Linked DNA regions of Homo sapiens. The protein of the gene in region 2 interacts with the protein of the main gene of each other region in a pairwise test. Each region holds a gene or a part of one and is shown on either strand. Other genes may lie near its edges.

Region 1 (4,777 bases), on a different chromosome or scaffold from region 2:
ACAGCCAAGTGAACGTGCGCATTCTTTTCAGATGCCCGTTGGGCATTCACCAAACAGACCATATCCTGGGTCATGAGAATTTTTTTAAAAAAGAACTGAAATTGTGCAAAGTATTTTCTATGAATATAATATAATTAAGCTAGAAATTAATAGCAGAAATAGATCTTAAGTCTCCAAAGGTTTAGAAGCTAAACAACACACCTTTAAACAATCTGTTAAAGAGGATATTGCAAAGCAAACTATTGAAAATATTTTGAACTGAAAAATACACCACCATATCAAAATTTGTGGGATGCAACTAAAGCAATGCTTAGAGTTAAATGTGTAGTATTAAATACTGATTTTAGAAAAAAGTTCTCAAATCATCAATCTAAGCTTAAGAAACTATAAAATGAAATGCAAAGGAACCCCAAGCCAGCAGAAGGAAGGAAATAACGGAGCTAACACCAAGCAACAAAAATGAAAACAAAACTGCAGCAAACATAAAAAACCAAACTGAAAGCTGGTTCTTTGGAACAAATCATTAACTGATAAACCAGTGGCCAGAATGACAAGAAAGCACAGATCCCCAGTATTTGGTATGGAAGAGGATATTCTGTAGACCCCACAGGCATCAAAAGAGTACAATGAACAACCTCATGCCCATACATTTGAAAATTTGGATAAAATGGACCAATTCCTTTAACCCAAGAAGAAATAGCTTGAGTATCTCTTAAGTAGATAACCCGTATCTATGAAGGAAGTTGTAGATGCATAATCTAAAGTCTGAAAAGGCTCTTTTTCCAGAGAAGCCAGAAATTGTGTCTGTGTGTGGGTGTGTGTGTGTTTACAGAGTTACCAACTGATTAGAAACAAAGTGTTGAAACTCAAGTGTGAGCTGATGCTGCATGCCAAGTAAAGCCACGGGCTTTGTGTGGGAAGTAGCCTGTCCCTGAAGCAGGCGTGGTGGTGGCTCTCAGGCCTTGAGTCTTGTTCGCAAGCACATCCTGGGAAATCTCAGCCGTGTGTGAGGGTCAGGCGAGCTCTGTTTCCCATCCTGGTGTGAGGGGTCAACCGGAAGCTGCGTGGGGCGAAGGTGACCGGTGGCGGGGTCACCGCGCAATGCTCGGGCGCCTGCTGTGTGCATGGCTAGCGCAGGAAAGGCAGGCGCCTTTGCACCGGGGCTGTGGTCCCAGGCCCGGAGCCCCACCCCAAGTCAGCTGTGCAGCCCTGCCTGGGCCTAAAGCAGGCAGGGGGGAATTCCGAAGCCTGGGCTGACTGCTGGGGTGTGTGAGAGGCCGAGGGGCCTGCACCACCTTCCCCCGGTGCTACCCAGGCACCACCCTGTCTTTTTGTCTGTGGAAGAGACTGGATTTTGTGGAGCTGGAGCTGCATCCAGGGGAGGACACATCCCAGAGAATAAAAAATGGGAGGAAAATGCCCTCTGTGGGTCAGGGCCTTATAATTTAGCTAAACCGACCCAAGTGGAAACAGTCCCAAAGCCTCCTGGTTTTTCCCAGTGGGTGTAATGATAAAGCCGGATTTATGTTCTCAGAGGCCAACAAGATGCTCTAGAGCCGAGCACTGTGGGCTTGGGAGAGAGGAGGGGGTGCAGATGCCGGCTGTCTCCTGCGGGTTCCTAGCTCCAGCCCTGAACACACCCGGCCATGGCTGTGCCTGAAGACTCTCACACAGGGCGGCTACGGCACCCAGGTGCCCACCCTGGCTTATGAGCGGGACGGACGCCCCAGGGTGGGGGAGGGCTGTGTCCTGTCCTTTCTGTCCAGGCAGCGCTCCCCACCCAGGCTCTGCCTCTGGCTTCAGGAGCTGTGGAAGGGTCAGCGGCCGCTGATTTAAACATTTCACACGGGAAAGTGCAGCAGCACTCATGTTCACTGCTAGGCAAGCCAGGGCATGAACACAGCGGTGGGGGAAGCGTGTTCGGACTGGGATGGTGGGTGGCGGCTGCTCCCTGTTCACTCCAGGAAAGGAAGGTTTGCATCTATCACCAGGGAGGGAGGCCGGCAGAGACCCAAAAGCAGCTGCTCTGCTCCACTTGGCTGTGTGCCTGGGGGCACAGATCTGCGTCCTCAGCACCCTCCCAGGCCCGGCCCCTCCCAGAATTGCCACCGCGCACCAGGGGCCCTGACGTCAGCTGCTCGCCCTGCTGTCCCCTGTAGCCTCGAGCTGGTCTCACTGTTCTTGGGCTTGCAGAGCCCCAGCCAGGCGGCAGCTCTTGCGGCCACAGAGAAGTCAAGGGTGGGGGTTGCATGGGACAGGTGGGGTCAGGGTGTGTCCTTTGGCCCCCTGGGGTGTCCCTGACCCCTGGGTCACCCTGTAGACTGGGTGTCCCCTCAACCCCCTGGGTGCCCCCTGAGCCCCAGGCCTCCCCGCCGACTGCCTGGGGGTCCCCTTAGCCCCCTGGGTGCCCCTGAGCCCCAGGTCTCCCCGCTGTCTAAGCCCCAGGCCTCCCCACTGACTGAGCCCAGGTCGCCGCCCTCCCCACCGCTGACCGCCTGCTTGTGTCTCCACAGCATCAAGATGGTGCTCATGTGGACCAGTGGTGACGCCTTCAAGACGGCCTACTTCCTGCTGAAGGGTGCCCCTCTGCAGTTCTCCGTGTGCGGCCTGCTGCAGGTGCTGGTGGACCTGGCCATCCTGGGGCAGGCCTACGCCTTCGCCCGCCACCCCCAGAAGCCGGCGCCCCACGCCGTGCACCCCACTGGCACCAAGGCCCTCTGACAGTGGGGAGGACGAGGATGTGGGACCGCCAGCCGCGGGCACTGGTGGGCCCTGACCTCCCCGCGGGGAGGGTGGGTGCTGTGGCCCCTGCAGGTGTGGCAGAGATGGGGCATGGGCATTGGGGTCTCCATCAGCCTCTGTGGGGTGTCTCAGGGTGGGCAGTGGGGGTGGGGCTGGGACGCTGTTTGTGCTCAGCGGGGACAGCCAGGGTTGATCTGGCCCCGAGGGTTTTGGATGTTTTTAGGATGACATAAAAAGCAAGTGTTTTCCCCATTTCCTCTTATGAAACACCGTCTGAGCCCAAGGTACACATTGGGCGGCCTGCAGGAACCTGCTCCAGGTGGACACACGGGCCAGCAGCCGCGAACCTTGAAGCTGGGGTGACCGCAGGAGACCCTGTAAGGCCTGTGAGCGGAGCCCTCGACCCCGTGACACCCTGGCCAGACACCCTGCTTGGACTGGGGTGGCCTCTGCTACCCAGGGGTCTGGCACGGGGGAGGGCTGGGGCTTTCTCTGCCTGGTACACACGGAAAGGCGGCTGTGCGGACGCAGGGTCACCGTGCTCCGGGTTTTCTGACAGTCGGTGTTTCCTGGGCCTTTGGAGTGGCTGCGAGGCCTGAACGCCTTGTGGATCCGCTGTGTCCAGCCCGGCTGAGCATCGCCAGGGCTAGCTCATGCTGCTCTTGTCAGCCTCTGGTTCTCCTCGAGTCCTTGGGGACGTGGCAGATGCCAGCGACCATCAGACAACGTGGAGGCCCTCATGGGCAATGGCTGAGGGGGCCGGGCTGAGGCTGTGCACATGCAGTCTGCACGCCACTCTTGGGCTCTGCTGGCGGAGATCCCCTTCCTTCTGGGTGCAGACTGCACCTCCGGATGCAGTTTTGATGTCCATCTTCCAGGAGAGACGGTCTCGGGTCCAGGGAGTGGAGGGGGCTGCCCCTGCCGTGCAGGTCCTGGCCGATGGCGCCTTACCCTGCTGCCCTGGGCTTTTGGCCTGAAGCAAATTCCTGAGTGGGGGGTACTGGGGCCTGCCGCATCCTGTCCTGTCCACTGCCCACCCCCGTGTGCTGGCTCCCTCACTTCTGGCTGCAGTGGGAGCCGCCAGTCTGACCCTTGTCACCGCACGCTCTGCCCCCACCCCGTTGCAAGAGGTCACACCATGTCAGCAGCCTTGCACTGACCGCAGCCGGCCCCCAGGCCTCAGAGTTCTGGATGCTTCCGTGCGGCTCCAACAGGCATCGTCTTCCCTTCCGCAGGTGGAGGGGCCGCTTCCCGCAGGCATCTGAGCTCTGTGCCGGGGCCGTGGCCATGGGAAGATGTTCCACGCTGCCTCCTCCTCGAGTTTTCCTCGGAAACACTCTTGAATGTCTGAGTGAGGGTCCTGCTTAGCTCTTTGGCCTGTGAGATGCTTTGAAAATTTTTATTTTTTTAAGATGAAGCAAGATGTCTGTAGCGGTAATTGCCTCACATTAAACTGTCGCCGACTGCAGGCGCAGTGACTGCTGAATGTACCCTGTGTGGCGACTTGGAATCAATAAACCATTTGTGGATCCTGAGTTGGCCTTGGGCAGAGGGAAGGATCTGGCTGTGGTCCTGGCCTCTGCCCAGACACACCCTTGTAGCCTGGGCCACCTTAGAAGGCCCCTGTGTGACCTGGGTTCCTCCAGGGCCCCAAACAACAGCCCAGCCCCCTCGACCTGTCACTGGCCTGTGCCTGTGGGCCGGCAGCCCGGGGGTCCTTTTGGCTCCTCACAGACGGGTCTGGCACTGCCTCTAGCTGCCCTGGCCACATCCGCCCTTCTGCCTCCCACCACCGAAGGCTTAGAGCATGGGAAGGGTCTCCTGTAAAGGCCAAGAGAAGTGTTTCCAGATTTGCGATCTTGGAGCAGCACATACAGATGGAGCTGTGTGTGCATAGCGATTTTTTCTGTGCAGTTTACATTGAAGGCAAGATGTTTCTTTGTCCAGTAAAAAACCAGGTGTGTGGGTGCAGGGCAGGATTTGGGTTGAAGGGCCCATCTGGGTACTAGGAGAGGGCACAGGCCACGTCCAGGCA
Region 2 (7,017 bases):
CCGGCTAATTTTTGTATTTTTAGTAGAGATGGGTTTCACCATGTTGGCCAGGCTGGTCTCAAACTCCTGACCTTGTGATCTGCCTGCCTCGGCCTCCCAAAGTGCTGGGATTACAGGCGTGAGCCACCGCACCTGGCCACATATGCTAATTTTTAGAGACATTGAATATAGTCAAAAGCAAAACAAGAAGATACAAAAAAAATGACTGATTATGGCAAGCTTCACTATGACTTATCATTACCTATCAGTAACATAACCTTGATAAATCATTTGAGTTTGAACACTAAAATTTCTTCCAAAACCATGTGCATTCTGCCGCAGTTATTACTACCATATTAGATTCCCCCATAAACAGGAAGGAAGGTCCAAATAAGCTCAGTGGAATAAGAAAAATTAGAAGGAATCGTGAGTTTTGTTTTGTTAATGTGGCAGGTTTCTCCATGTGCCTGGTGGGCAGATGCAGAAATGCCTTCTCCATTTTAGACGGTAGAGCTGGTCCTTACTTTGGACACAAACAGACAACATAATTTAGAGAAACTAGAATTGCCTTAGTTATCATGTTTAGTTTGGGGAGTAAGTACATATGCCCCTTCTGAATTTTGGAATTTCATTTGATCCGCTTGCTCTTTCCTTTTTTTTTTTTTTTTTTTTTTTTTGAGAGAGAGAGGGTCTGGCTGTGTTGCCTAGGCCAGAGTACAGTGGCACAATCATGGCTTACTATTACAGCCTTGCTGCCAGCCTCAAGCGATCCTCCCATCTCAGCTTCCTGAGTAGCTGGGAGTATGTACACGCACCACCACGCCTGGCTAATATTTTGATTTTTTTTTTACACCATGCCTGGCTAATATTCTGATTTTTTTTTTTTTTTTTTTTGTAAAGACAAGGTCTCATGTTGCCCATGCTGGTCTTGAACTCCTGGGCCCAAGCAATCCTCCTGCCTTGGCCTCCCAAAGTGCTAGGATTACAGTCATGAGCCACTGTCCCTAGCCGTCTGTGACTTTTTACCAGATTAACTTGCTTGATTCTCCTTGTTCTTTTTGATTTTGCTCCTGTGAACTTTGGTTCAGTAGCTGATTTAGTCACATTCATGTAGTGTTAAAAAGACTTTGTCATCATGTGAGGTTTTTCTTTTTCAGTAATGACCATCCCAAAGTTGGGGCCTCACTTTACTCACTCACACTTCATACTGATACATAGTTAAGACTCTTATTGAGAGGAGGACAAAGGTCTAAAGAGGAAGGCAGGTCTGTTTTTCCAGTTGGGGGCACACCATGCTCTCTCTGTTGAGGGGTAGCAAGCTGTAGCTCGAGGGCAGTGTGAAAGTGAGCCTTCAAGAGGTACAAAGAAAAAATGAAAGGTCAGTGGAGAAAATGTGGTATTTATAGCAACAAAAGAAATCTCCTTGCGAACTTCATTGAGCTTATGTCTAAAGATAGCAGTAGGGAGACCAGGGAGAAGAAAAGTTTGTAAAAGAAGTAAAATCAAGACACAAAGGTTTCCTGGCCCTTCTGTCCCCATCCTAGGCCATTCGTTTCCTCCAGTGTCACATGTAACCTTGTAGGTTAAAAAAAAAATGCATTTTTAAAGAGGAAAAAATAAATAAAATGTAACAGGAGAAAACAAGGCATTTGTACTTTTGCCACTGATTGCATTCCGAATAGTGAGCTCCTTGAGGTTGACCTGCTGCCTGACTGTGCCTGTCCTGTCATTGCAGGATGATGTGGGCAGCAGGGACCGTGGCTGCCATGTCCAGCATCACGTTTCCGGCAATCAGTGCCCTCGTCTCTCGGAATGCAGAGTCAGATCAGCAAGGTGAGGTCACTGCCCCCCACTTGTTTTTCTCCTTCAACGGGAGACCTCCCTGCTAGAAGCAGGAGCAGCTCTGAGTTCTCCCCATCAACAGCAGGAGCCGACAGCCATATGGCCCCTTTTATCATACCTATTTACTTTGGCAGATAGGAACATTCTATTTTCCTCTCTGCTTTGATCTTACACTTATATTTTTTAAAGCTAGACTTAGCAGTTCAGATTGCTAACAATTAGAAATAGAACTATTCATTTTCCCTTTTCAGTTTTGATACATCTTTTCTTCTTTAGTGTCACAATTAAGCAGACTATAATCACATTTTAACAGATGTCTATTAAATAATGAAAAACCAGTTAACCACGAGTTACTTAATTACTTTATTCACTAATTATTTGGAATAACTCAAAGTCTTTGAGCTTAATTTAGAAAATAGTTTGAGAGTAGTAAGAAAAAGTCTGTGTGGTTGTTGATAGATGTTGAGTGAGAGATGAAATTAAAATTAAGACTGCTATGTGGAAAATAGCATTCTACCATCTAGATCCATATCCCATCCTTCCCATGCCTCTGCTTCCCTTCCTGTCCTGTCTTGTCCTCCCTCCATCCCTTCTTCCCTCTTTTCCCACCCTTCCTCCCCCCACCCCCCACCTCCTACCCCTTACAGGGTCTCACTGTCACCCAGGCTGGAGTGTAGTGGTACAATCTTGGCTCCCTGCAGCCTCCGTCTCCTGGGCTCAAGTGATCTCCCAGTCACCCTCCCAAGTACCAGGGACTAGAGACGCACACTACCATGCCCAGCTAATTTTTTGTATTTTTAGTGGAGATGGGGTTTCGCCATGTTGCCCAGCCTGGTCTCGAACTCCTGGGTTCAGTCTGCCTGCCTCGGCCTCTCAAAGTGCTGAGATTACAGGTGTGAGCCCCCATGCCTGGACTGCTTTCCTTTCAAGCAGTTCCCATGGCTAGATTTAATCTCTTTCCTTCTCTATCTCCTAATGGCTCACCTTATTGTATTCAGGAAGAAGTAGACAATTTTAGAGGGAGAAAAATTTTTTAATGCCTAAGAGCCCTTTTTTTTAAAAGTTTTAGTAAAAAACTATATTGGAAAGGATGGTTTATTCATTGCATTTTTTTTTTCTATATCAGAAGTTAGGTATCTTACTCAGATTCATTGTTAAATATTGTCCCTTGAAGACCACACATTCTGTATGTCACTCCTGGCTACAGTAACTCAGTTGGTTTGCATCCTTAGGGAGGTGCTGTGTCTGAAGTGAAGATGTGATGACCCATCCGTGGAGGACTGTCACTGCCTTGGCATCTGACAGACACCGTCCTGTCATTTGGGGCATGGATTTTCTTTTGACTTTTTATACTTATTCATGTCAATATACATGTTTCTGAATGTCAGCATATAAAAGTTTTGGAACACATTGTATTAGGCTGAATTATATACTACCATTTTTGATTTACAGAAACATTCATTTCATACAGTTCAAGCTAACTTTTTACTTGCTATGTTAGAAAGCAGAGATATTTAGGAATTTGGCACTTCTGGGTTTTTCAGTGTAGGTCTCTAGGGAGATAGGCTGGAATACACCTGTGAAGATGAAGTCTGCCTACTGGGGACTGGTCTGTATTCCTGACACCAGGGCTGCCAGAGGTGAAGGGCAAGTTTTTGTTGTGAAAGCACCAGTAAATGACCAGAGCAGGGAAATCTCAGTTGACAGAAAAGTGGACATTGCCTGAAATGGGAAGATATTAAAGTTTTGGATTGTATATGTTTTTATGATTTTATATGTTTTATATGGTTTTATTAGTTTTGGATTTTATTTTATAATGGATAAAGTCTTCCTAATCTACTTTCATTAGCATGCTTTCTCTTTTCCTCAGTCTTGCCGAATTAGTGTATCATGGTTATGAGAAAGTACTGTGCAGCTCCAAATCTTGAGATGCCTTTCTGAGAAGACTGGCATTATTTTCTTTGTTCTGATTTAGGAGTTGCCCAGGGGATCATAACTGGAATAAGAGGACTATGCAATGGCCTGGGGCCAGCACTGTATGGCTTCATATTCTACATGTTCCATGTGGAACTGACTGAGTTGGGCCCGAAATTGAATTCTAACAACGTTCCCCTGCAGGTAATTTGGTCATAAGTCTAGTTTTGTAACAACAATTATGTATGATTATAGCAAAATCTTGTGACCTTAAATTTGGAGAGCATTCTTTCTTGTATGTTACTATATTTTATTTGGCAGCAATAAGTATTGTGTTCATTGCTTCTCGGGATCAGGGAGGGGTCATTTTAGTGATTTAATATCTTATGTAAAAGATATGTCTTAACTTTGTTCAGATTCTGTTTTCACCTACACAATCACTACACTATTCTCTGGATAAGCCCAGGCTAGTTAAAATTTGAAATGACCTAAAAATCCAGCTAAAAATTGAGGTAGGGTACTTTTTGTACTATTTATTTGAAATTTCTTCCCTTGTTCCCTCTAAGCCATATCTATACAAAGCTGGAATTAATGTTCATGTACAAAGGTGCATGATCTGAAGTCATAGGATGGGATTATAGGTAAACAGCTGTTGCTTACAAGCTTACAGTTTTGCTTAAGCTATTTGGAAGTGGTACAAAAAGCAGTTAATTAGTTGCCCTTTGTCATATTCCAAACACCAAGCTCTAGTGGAGTTTGCCTTGACATTTAATGAAACATTTGCTTATGAGAATATGATTCACTTTTTGGTGGTGTGTTTTTTTTGGGTAATCTAGGAATAATTTTGAGTTAAAAGACTAACTGTATTCTTTGTCTCCACTTGTTTTCCACGTTCAACAGGGAGCTGTCATCCCAGGCCCGCCGTTTTTATTTGGGGCATGTATAGTCCTTATGTCTTTTCTGGTTGCCTTATTCATTCCTGAATACAGTAAAGCCAGTGGAGTTCAAAAACACAGTAACAGCAGCAGCGGCAGCCTGACCAACACCCCAGAACGGGGCAGTGATGAGGACATTGAGCCACTACTGCAAGACAGCAGCATCTGGGAGCTCTCTTCATTTGAGGAGCCTGGGAATCAGTGCACTGAGCTGTAAACTCGGCAGAAAGTGGGATTCTGCATACGCCATCTCTGAGAGCCATGGAGGGAGCCACACCCCTGGTGACTTCATGGTGCTGGATGGGAGACGCTAGCGGCATCCTTCAGGGCCAAGTTTGATAAATACCACCGCCATCATTCTGCTCATCCTCCTCCTGTTTTTTTTTTTTCTCTTACATTCTTTTTTTTTTTCCTGTTTATACATTAGAACAAGATAAGATTTGAAATACTTCCTTGCAAATAATGTGCAACTCCCAAGGTGAAACTCAAATAGAAAAAGTCATCTCTCTGGTAGAAAGGATGGCTTTCCTGTAATGACTATAGAGTAAGAGTGGCAGCAATCTTTCCATGCCCTTTTCAGCAGAAGGCACAGAACAGTAGCGGGACTGCCATCTCTGGCAAGATTTCAGGTAAAGAATCTCTTCTTAATTTCTACCTTCCTGTTTCTCTGAATCAGCCCATAGGTGTTGATGAGTGGCCACTCTTAAAGAGTCACTCAGTATCAGGGATCTACTGTCTTTGTTCAAAGGTCAAATAAAAACCTAGTCTCCTTTTATTCTACTTTCTATTCTTAGCTAGAATGAAACTCAGCATATATACACTTCTGGACATAATAATATTGAATAGTAATTACCTTTACTAGATGAAAGAAATTTTCATTACAAACTTAAATCATGTAAAACTCAACAACTCAGATTCCTGGACCTGGTGTCCTGGTTGGGTCCAAGGTGATTTTACAGAAGAAAAAAACAACTCAAGCATTCTGGTGGCAACATAGAGATTGTAGGCTGCTTCTAAGAAAGTTATTAACAATTTGGAAATTCCTAAGTAGGATGAGAGTTAGTAACTGGATACGAGTGAAGTTTATATCCAAGTTCAGACTCAAAGGCATTATTATGATTTGCTTCTTCCCATGTCTTCCATGTCCTGCTTCTCAAAGTTTTTCTCATCCATCACACTCCTGCCTTAACTGCTCTGAGTATGCATTTGTTTTCAATTCATCTTTATTTCAATCTGTTTAACTTTTGAATCGCATGGGAATACGCACATTAAGTTCCTTTCTAAAATAAGGTTTTATGAAGCTGAGTTTCACGATAAGTGTCTTGCTATTTTTTGAGATGTTTTATGGACAAAGAAAACTTTACAGATTTATATGTATTTTGCTGCACCAGTAAATGGACCATTAACTAGGGCCCACCTTTAACAGAGCACCCCTTTGAAAGTTTTATAGGTATGAAATATATGTAGATATTTGTAAAGGGTTTTAATTTTTTTTTTTTGATGGGGTGCTGTGTAAATCTTGTATTTATAAATGTAATGAAGGTATTGACAGAAAAAAATATATACAACTTTTATAAAGGATTGTGTACTGACTGAATACATTTAAAAGAAAATATATTTTGAAACCTGTTCTGCTATGAACAGAGATAACATATCTTTTTACTATGCTATTGGTTTTTAGGTTAAGCTTCCTAATGCATAATAAATTTACAGTGGTTACTTTTATGTCTTGTGTCTTTTTTTTAAAGCAAATAGTATTGCTCTTTTGGGTTCTCTGTTGGGTGGCTTTCAATTAAACTGAGTTGTAATCTTTCAGCTGATGCAAAAGGTATGTATTTTCAAAAAAATTTTATTTTTAACAAAATTCCTTCAAAGTCTCCCTTCAAAAACATCGTAACTACAGATGCTCCTTGAAAAAAACATCGTAACTACAGATGCTCCTTGACTTACCGATGGGGTTCCATCCTGATAAGCCCATTGTAAGTTGAAAATATCATACATTGCAAATGCATTATTAACACAGCTTAGAAGCTTCAGCACTTTCGGTATCAGCACAGTAGAGTATTGGTTGGTTGTTTACCCTCCTGAGTGCATAGTGATTGGGAGCTGCAGCTCACTTGCCACTGCTCAATGTCACGAGAGAGTATCATACCACATATCGCCAGCCTGGGAAAAAAAATCAAAATTTGAAGTATGGTTTCTACTAAATGGGTATCGCTTTTATACTGTCATGAAGTTGGAGACCATCTGTATTTTTATTTTTAAAAAGCAGGGACAGAACAAAAACGCGTATATCCACGTTCATAGCATTCATAACAGCCAAAAGATGGAAAAAAACCTAAGTGGC

The links. Proteins that work in one complex are often made in the same cells at the same time.
Region 1: the proteins of SLC71A2 (region 2) and SLC66A2 interact in binary tests that used the Homo sapiens proteins (3 or more experiments, as listed by UniProt).

The regions. Positions count from the first base shown.
Region 1 is NC_000018.10:79,901,920-79,906,696, reverse strand, and holds the end of SLC66A2 (solute carrier family 66 member 2), read left to right. Parts: intron 1-2,513; coding exon 2,514-2,721; 3' UTR 2,722-4,277; downstream 4,278-4,777.
Region 2 is NC_000009.12:94,454,526-94,461,542, forward strand, and holds the end of SLC71A2 (hippocampus abundant transcript-like protein 1), read left to right. Parts: intron 1-1,714; coding exon 1,715-1,812; intron 1,813-3,796; coding exon 3,797-3,939; intron 3,940-4,635; coding exon 4,636-4,887; 3' UTR 4,888-6,517; downstream 6,518-7,017.